Regions from separate parts of the Homo sapiens genome. Here region 1 is linked to region 2. Evidence: fine-mapped expression QTL. A gene starts in region 2. The other region holds a variant in brackets. All regions are shown on one strand. Distances are from middle to middle.

Evidence for each region. PIP is the estimated chance that this variant, and not a neighbour inherited with it, causes the effect. A credible set is the group of variants that fine-mapping cannot tell apart.
Region 1: its variant is the best candidate, but not a certain one, in a credible set for the expression of ITPR1 in lung (GTEx, PIP 0.53).

The regions. Positions count from the first base shown.
Region 1 is chr3:4,551,386-4,555,665 of GRCh38, forward strand. All of the region lies in intron 4 of ITPR1 (inositol 1,4,5-trisphosphate receptor type 1), which reads left to right. Among named protein-coding and RNA genes, the nearest start is that of ITPR1, 60 kb to the left of the region's middle. The variant G/A (reference allele first, on the strand shown) is at 1,813.
Region 2 is chr3:4,491,182-4,495,392 of GRCh38, forward strand. ITPR1 (inositol 1,4,5-trisphosphate receptor type 1) reads left to right here and starts at 2,167. Exons shown (of 62, transcript NM_001378452.1): 1 at 2,167-2,424; 2 at 3,250-3,325. It overlaps ITPR1-DT (ITPR1 divergent transcript), which reads right to left and starts at 1,982. Exons shown (of 2, transcript NR_108075.1): 1 at 1,603-1,982; 2 at 1-187. RefSeq lists silencers at 2,236-2,505, 3,804-4,098.

The sequences.
Region 1 (4,280 bases), 60 kb after region 2:
CAGAAATGTGTCCTTATGAAAATACTGTCTTCTGATAGCTTCAGCATACAGGGTTTTTTATGAGAACAGATCTTTCTAATCTCTCAGCGTTGCCAAGAAGTGTCCATGCTTCTTATCTAGAGAGATTATTCCATGTTTTAATTATAAAGGGTTGAGTAGCTGTTTCAGGGCTGACGTTGGTTCTTGCTCATGAATCAAGGTCACAACAGAGCTCACCCCTGGCCTTGGCCAGGGACTTAATGTTCATTCAGCAAACATCTGCCAAACCCTCACTATATTTACAGCATGTGTTAATTGTAGTGGGCTAGATACAGATAATACTCCATGTATATAGTACTTTTAACAGTTTCTAAAGGCTTATTCTCTTATTCACATGAAGAATCTGAAATCAGAGAAGTCGGCTTAAGTTATATAGCTGGTAAGTCAACAAGCAATAGCTGCAACCAGTCGTATCTTATTTTTTGACTACATCTCTGCTGTCTGAGGCAAGGTCCCTACTCTCAAATGAGTTAACTTTTAATAGAAAAGATAATTTGATTGACTCTAACGAACATTTATTACATATGCTCTGGAGGTTCCATGTGAAACAGGCTTGTCTTTAATCTAGGTCTCAGGATAGCAGAAGTAATCCCATTTGTATTTTTATCTGTTTTGTTTAGGATGCTTATCACAGTTCTAATGCAGAAATTATTTGGATAATTCTGATTGTGGAAAAAAACAAACTCAAAGTGCTTTTTCTAGTCTCTCACTCAACAGCAGTCAACACAGATTTCTGTGACAAACGGGGTGGGGGAAATTCTCCCCATCACCAAGCAAGCAATCAATTCTGCAGCAGACAACAGCTGGGTATCTTCTATTTTAATGTTTAACTGGTGATAGTATTAGATCCCACAGATTGGAGGCTCAGCCCCCAAGAATGCCCCACCTCCCACCTGACACACCAGTCTGGGCCTCTGGAACGTCTGACTGACTGGCTTTAAGTTTGGATTCCTATGACCACCTCTTTGGGTTGGATTAATTTGCTAGAGTGGCTCACACAACTCAGGGAAGCATGTTTACCCATTTATTATAAAGGATATTACAAAGGATACAGATAACCAGAGGAGGAGATACACAGGGTGAGGTCTGGAAGGGTCTTGAGTGTAGGAGCTTCTGTTCCTATGGAGTTGGGGCCCACTATCCTCCCAGTGGGTGGATGAGTTCTTGTTCACCATCTTGTCTGCCTCCACATGTTCAGTTATCTGAAGCTGGTCCTTTTGGGTTTTTATGGAAGCTTCATTATGTAAGCATGATTGATTAAATCATTGGCCATTGGTGATCAACTTAACCTTCAGCCTCTCTTCCCTCTCCTCTTTCTGGGCTGAAAGCTGGACCCTCTAATCCTGCCTTGTTTTTTTCTGGTGACCAGCTCCATCTAGAAGCTGCCTGGGGGCTGCCAGCTACCAGTCAACTCATTAGCATGCAAAAGACATCACTTTGGCATTTCTGAGGATTTTAGGGGTTGTATGCCAGGAAACAGGGTCAAAGACCAAATATATATTTCACAATGTGACAGTAATGATTTATTTTATGCCTAACTCCGCTGCTAGATTGTGGGTAGGGACTTTCTCGTTGACCCCAGCATCCCCAACACAAAGTGAAACATCTGTCAGAAAACAGATGTGTCTTTCATCACAAAAGCATGTTGAATGAGTGCACTATAAAGAATAGATGAGGTGCTGTTTTAAAGTGCCATGGGACCACAGATGAAGTTTATTGTGGTGGGAGGTGATGTCATGAGTAGAAAAACTTACGGAGAAGGCATATTAAGCC[G/A]GGCAACAAAGGATGGGCGGGCATTAAACATGAATGGAGTGAGGGTTGGGATAGAGGGGTGGGACATTTTTCTACAGTGAATTACAGGACCAAAGACACAGATGGGCAGACTCCAGCTATGATTTTTTTGACAGATAGACAGGGTGTGTGAGGTTGAGGCTTAAGTGGTTTATTGGTACCAGATTTTGAAGTCTTTGATTGACTAAGACATTTGAAGTTTGTTCTTGCTATTGTTATTATTATTTTGTTTTGAGGGAGGGTCTTGCTGTGTCACCCAGGCTGAAGTACAGTGGTACGATTTCAGCTCAATGTAACCTCTACCTCCTGGGCTTAAGCAGTCCTCCCACCTCAGCCTCCTGAGTAGCTGGGACTACAAGCGCGTGCCACCACGCCTGGATAATTTCTTTTTTTTTTTTTTTTGAGACAGAGTCTCCTTCTTGTCGCCCAGGCTGGAGTGCAATGGCATGATCTCAGCTCACTGCAACTTCTGCCTCCCAGGTTCAAGTGATTCTCCTCCCTCAGTCTCCTGAGTAGCTGAGATTACAGGTGCCCACCACCACGCCTGGCTAATTTTTGTATTTTTAGTAGAGACGGGATTTCACCATGTTGGCCAGGATGGTCTCGAACTCCTGACCTCAGGTGATCCACCTGCCTTGGCCTCCCAAAGTGCTGGGGTTACGGGCGTGAGCCACCACGCCCAGCCTGGCTAACATTTTTTAGTTGTTTAGAGACAGGATTTTGCCATGTTGCCCAGGCTGGTCTTGAAAACTCCTGGGCTCAAGCAGTCCGCCCTCCTTGGCATCCCAAAGTGCTCGGATTACAGGTGTGAGCCACCGCGCCCAGCCTTACTACTATTATTAATTTTAAAAAGAACCTTTATTGGTATCTTACTACACTAAATGTATTATGTTCATTACTTCATTTAGCAGTGAGGGCAATCCCATCTTATTGGTGAGGAAACAGGTTCAGAGAGTTTAAGTATCTTGCCCAAGGTAACAGTCACTGAGTGGCACAGTTAGTGATGAATTCTGTTCTCTTTGATAGGAATAGAGGCCCACTGATACCTGTGAGCTTAGCAGTGTATCATTCTTTATTTTGTCAGAAATGAGTACAGTGTTTGGCACATCATAGGTGCTCCAGGTTTTAGAGAATACATTTTTTGCCGAGTCGCAGAAGGAATCAGTACTTTCCTTTAGGAAGATTAGTCTGGTAATTACGTGTATTGGCCTAGTTAGTAAATGTTTTTTGTGGGCATGAATCAATTGAATCCTTGTTTTTGATGCTGGCTATGTGCCAGGCACTGGTGTAGGTGCTGGGGACCTACGGTGGTGAGCTCACTGGTGGGTTGGGCTGGAGAGAAAGGGGTCGTAGGGTGGCAGGCAGGCTGGTTGGGAAGGAGTGACAGTGTGGCTACAGGTTACATCAACCCCCTGAGAGAGAGCAGATGGGCAGAGACTGAGGACTGAGGTTTCAGTTAACCCGGTGGTAACCTAGAATCATGATGGGGGCCAGTGACTCGAAATATCTGTCTCACTGGTCATTGGGTGGAGGATGACAACCTGCCCCTGATTTTAAAACAGCAGTTTCTTGTCTTCCTGCTTGTGGGTGGATTAATTGGGTTACATATGTTTATGAATGATAGTGTAAATACATTTCTGATGACAATCTGGGGAAAAAAGCAAAAATGGCAATAAAAGAACTGTTGCTCATATATCAATGGATAAGGCAATTATCTTCTCTAGGAGCACACAGCATTCATGTGTGGGGAATAGGGGTGAAGAAAGATTTCGTTACTGAGAGCATGATCTGGGGATGGAACTGTACCCGCGGAATGTGTTTCCATCTGTCATAGGCTGTGCTTTTGAAACAACACACCATGTTCCATAGGGCTTCTAATAAAGGATGAAGTGTTGGAGAATTCAGTGTTTTTATTTGTAGAAAGCACCAGAATCCCATAATCAAAGTCAGGGTATTTGGGGGATTGGAATCAATTAGAGGCATTACTGAATCCAGTCATCCCTGCCTCTCCTGCTTTAAGGTGAGGAAACTACCTTAGGTGTTTCCTGAGTTAGGTGACTTAGCCAAGATTGTACAGGTAGTTATTACAGAGACAGGACTAGAAACTTGGTCTTCAGAGGCAAGCGATTGCTTTTGGCAGTTTGGTGTGTATCTTTCCAGGATGTTTCCTATTCATTTGAAGGCATATAGGCGTATATTAAAACATACATTTTTATGAATTTTCTTAAACCCGTAATTATTATTCTGCAATTTGGTTTTTTCACCTGACTCCTTTCTTAACCCATTTTTTGTTAATGTCAATAGCAAAATAATAAATAAACCATGGTATATCCAGGCAATGGAATATTACTCAGTGCTAAAAATAAGTGGGTTATGAAGCCATGAAAAGACATGGAGGAAACTTACTAATCTACAATCTAGTTTTTTTCAGCATTTGAGGATTATTCCAT
Region 2 (4,211 bases):
ATTTGCTTGAAAAGTAGAGCCGAAGATCCTTTGAAAATGGAAGAGGTTTTCATGGGGGAAGAGATGAGTGGGGGCGAATGAGAAACATCTCCTTTATATGGCAGATGCGGCAGTTTCTTGATGATGGGGAGAAGCAGCTTAACGTATTAGGCACTAGACCCCAGCGTCCAGTGACCAGGGGATAATGCTGACAGGGAACGGAGGGCAGGAGTGAATATCGTGAACACAAACTTTGTCTATTTCAAGAGCTTTGCCCCTTCCTGGACTGACATTAAATGCTTATCTGAGCAGGCAAATACAGTGCACATGTTTACATTGGGGAGGTAGCGGAGACTAGTAGTTTAGGACCAGGGTTCAAGACTCAGCTATTTGTGTGACTTTGGAGGAAGTAATTTAATCGCTTTGTGCCCCCCCTCAGTTTTCTCATAAGTAAAAAATGGCTTAATAGGATTTAATTAGGTGCTATACAGAAAGAGTTTAGACCAATGCCTGACACATGGCATTCACCCAATAAGTGTCAATAATTATGATTCGTTTTGGCATTATTATGTCAGTAATAACTATTAGCTATGATTCTCCTCTAATTTGTTCCTAAAGTTTCATGAGACTCGATTTTATATTAAGGAATCCTGCTAAAAAGTAGACATATTCTAATAAGAATTTCCTTCAGATGGCAAAACTGGGGCAAAGAGATGAAAATGACTTGCCCAAGGGCTCAGAGGCTGCTCCTAAATGGGGAGAGAGGCTATTTAAGGCAATGGCGGTGGATTTCCCCAAAGACAAGGGTTTCATACACGTAGAGTCTGGAACGGGAGTCCAGGCTGTACCACTTAACTCGAGGGGTCATTTGGGAAGTTACCTGATTTCTCTGAGCCCTGGATTGTGCACCTGCCAAATAGATATAATAAATATACCTACAGTTGGTAAAACTCAATAGCATGACGCATGAAAACTGCATGTGGTCTGGGCTCAATAAAATCAGCCTCCCCATTGATTATTATCATTATTATTACTATTGTTATAACAGATCTTTAGGCGGCGTCAGGAAGTGCCTGTCTGGGATGCTATAATGCGTTTGGCTCACCACTATGCCCCAGCGCCTGGCACCTAGTAAACACTCAGGAAACGTTTGAGGAATGAATATACGTCATTTGAGGCAAGACAGGGCAGTCGGCTGACTGCCTCCGGGCTTAGCTCTTCCCCTCCTTGCAAAAGCCGGAGCCCTAAGCAGCGTGTAGCCCGGGAGCCCAGGCATTACTTGGCAGCGGGTGAAACCCACCTTGCCCCATTCGGAGCTCTTGGAGAGCGCCCCGCCTGGATGCGCATCTCTGTGTGAGCGGCTCTTTCCTAAGCCCTTATTTTTCTGGTTTGCGGTTTATTTACTTAAGCATTTACAGCTCCCAGGAGCAGAGGGGCTGCTAGAGGTACGGTCAGGACTGAGGTCGCGGTTTGTATTTATTTTCTGCCTCCCAATCTCAGAGCCGGCAAGTCACAACACGGCTCCTTTATTTGTGCACCGGAGAGGTCTGCCTTTCTTTACCTCCTCACGGGCGATAAAAGACAAGCAACTCGGGCTCAGAAAAGTGCTCTCACGCGACTTGCCTGTGTCTCCGCTTGCGTGGACCGTCGCTCCCAGGCTTGGTTTCTCGTGCAAACCCGAGCAGGGCGGAGCAGATTAAATAAAGACACCTCGCGCCTTTAATCCTTGACCGCAAACACTGGCGTTTTTGTGCCCCGGATTTCTGAAATTCTTGGCTCGGGGAACCAAGGCAGGGGGAGGGTGGGCTTGTAAAAACTTCCCAAAGCAGAAATCCGAGCTCCTAGCCCCTCCCCGGCCCCAGTGACACCTGGATTCCAGGGAAGGGGGGCAGCCGGAGGAGAGGCGTCCCCAAGGGTTGCGGGCGCTTCCCAGGGGTGACTTTGAACGGCTGGCTCCAAGCCCTACCGACCCCAGCCAAGGAACAGGCTCAGCAGCCTGAAAGCCTCGCAGGACGCCCCTCCCCTGTCCCCGCACGCGTCTATTTAGGGCCCAGCCCGGGCGCCCAGGGGATTCTGGGACTTGTAGTCCCTCCCCGCAGCCTCAGGCGCCGCCACGACCCGCTACTTGGACTACATTGCCCAGGGAGCTTCCCGGCCTATATAAGCCACCCGGAGCCGCTTTAAAGTGCAGTAACCATGTGGATGTGCTGCTGAAGCGTTTCCTCAAGCTCGCTGGGGTGGGAGGAGAGGAGGAGGAGGAGGTGGTGGTGGAGGAGGAGGCAGGGGGTGGAGAGAGAGAAAGCGCACGCCGAGAGGAGGTGTGGGTGTTCCGCTTCCATCCTAACGGAACGAGCTCCCTCTTCGCGGACATGGGATTACCCAGCGGCTGCTAACCCCTCTCCTCGCCCTGCTCCCCCAAACCGGCGTGGCTCCCCGGGCACCAAGGTAGCGGCTGGGGCCGGGCAGAGGGCGCGGGGAGTTGGCACTGGCTCCCCGGGCGCAGAAGTTTTTGCCCCGCTCTCGGGGAGATCTTGATGGATGTGCATGCACTTGGCATGCATTTGGGGGTTCCTTTACTGCGGGCAGTTGTTTTGGGGGGAGCTCATTTGAAGCTTAAAAAACAAATATCCTCTACTCTAGTGCGTGGCTTTGGGGGCTCCCCATTCTGGTCTGATGTGGCATTCCCCCAAGTTGGAAACTGTTGCTGCAGCTGCAGGAAATAGTTCTTTTTTTTTTTTTTTTTTTGAAGAGAGGTTGTGGGGGTGTCATATGTGAGTCTGCTCAAGGAAATAATCTTTCTAAAAATGTATCCCTCTCTTGCGCTCCGTGGTTGGGAGAATAATGCATGTGTAGGGGCCCCCCGTGGGGAGGGTTTTTAAAAACGGAAGAAAACCGGAGAAGCGGTGAGGGATGAAGTGTGGACGAAGCTCATGTCCAATGAGGATGCGGGCTTCGGATACTTGGCCTTCTCGCCGGGAAACAAGTGCTTTGGGATCTGCCAAACACTTCCCTTAGTTCCAGCCTCCCGCACGTTCGAAGTTTGTGCGTGCCTAGTCTCAATTGTCAGTTACATCCTGGAAATAAGTAAGCGTAGTTACCTGGAATCTTCGCCCAAGCGATCCCACCAACCTGCCTACCAAGTTTGGGGGCGGGGGGGCTGTCCCCAGTGAAGGAGGCTAAAGAAGGTGGAAACTTGTAATTTGGAGCATTTCTGTTAGAGCTCATCTTCCGCGGTCTGGTACTCAGTCTTCTTTCTTTCTAAATATTTAGGAGCTGACTACAGAGGAGCAGGATTTGCACCCCTCGCTGGGCTTGCTTTGGCAACAGAGTGCCTGACCCAGGTCAGGTGAGTGTGGAAGCCTGAGTGCTGTAGTCAATAATGAGTTTTTGTCCTAAGCCTATTTTAAGTTCTATCTAAACCGCCAAGGAGGTGGGGAGTAAGAAAGAAAAAGAAACTCCGTGGCTCAGTCTTCAAAATTTGCCTCTGCCTTTGGTGAGGGCTTTTGGGAGCAGAGGTCCAGTGGACAGTCCGTTTCTTGGAAGTAGCTGAGAATTGAAGGAGCCTGAAAGTTTATGAGAGAGGAGGGGAAAAGGCCATTAAATGGAGCAATAAAACGGCGGCCCATTGCCGGTCTGAAAAGCATGCTGATGATTTAAATTCTGAAGGATACAGTGCATTTCATATGCCAAAATGTGTAAGCAGTATTAACTGCCTCTCTCCTTCAAGAAATAGTCACTCTTTTCTAATTTTGAACGTGTGCTTAATCAGAGTAGGTTGGATTGCAAGAAATGAAAGTGGTTGCTGCAAGTTGAAAGAATTAGAACTTTAAAAAGGGAAGTGAGTTATTGAAGCTTAAGGTGGTAGCATCCAGCCCTTGACTCAAGCCACCTGAGTGTCAAGGAATCTGGCAGGTCCCTGTTGTTTTGGGGCCCGTGGTGGAATATGAGCTGAGAGCAGCATTTATCTGTAAACACAACAGTTCCTATTTTTTCCCCAAAATGGTCAGACTGCATTTGAAGAGTGGGAGGTTTCAACGGGTGCACGTACATCACTATTGCTGCAGATTTGGCTATCAGGAGTTTTTTCTCCTGAAATGTTCAGGAACATGGTAAATAACAGGGTAACAGAGGTAGGTGGGGGTGGGTGGCTGGGTCTTAATAACTTTTTTAACATTCTAAATATTTAGCTGTTCCCTGGGCTACAATCTTTGGGCTTTTCTAATGAGAAAATA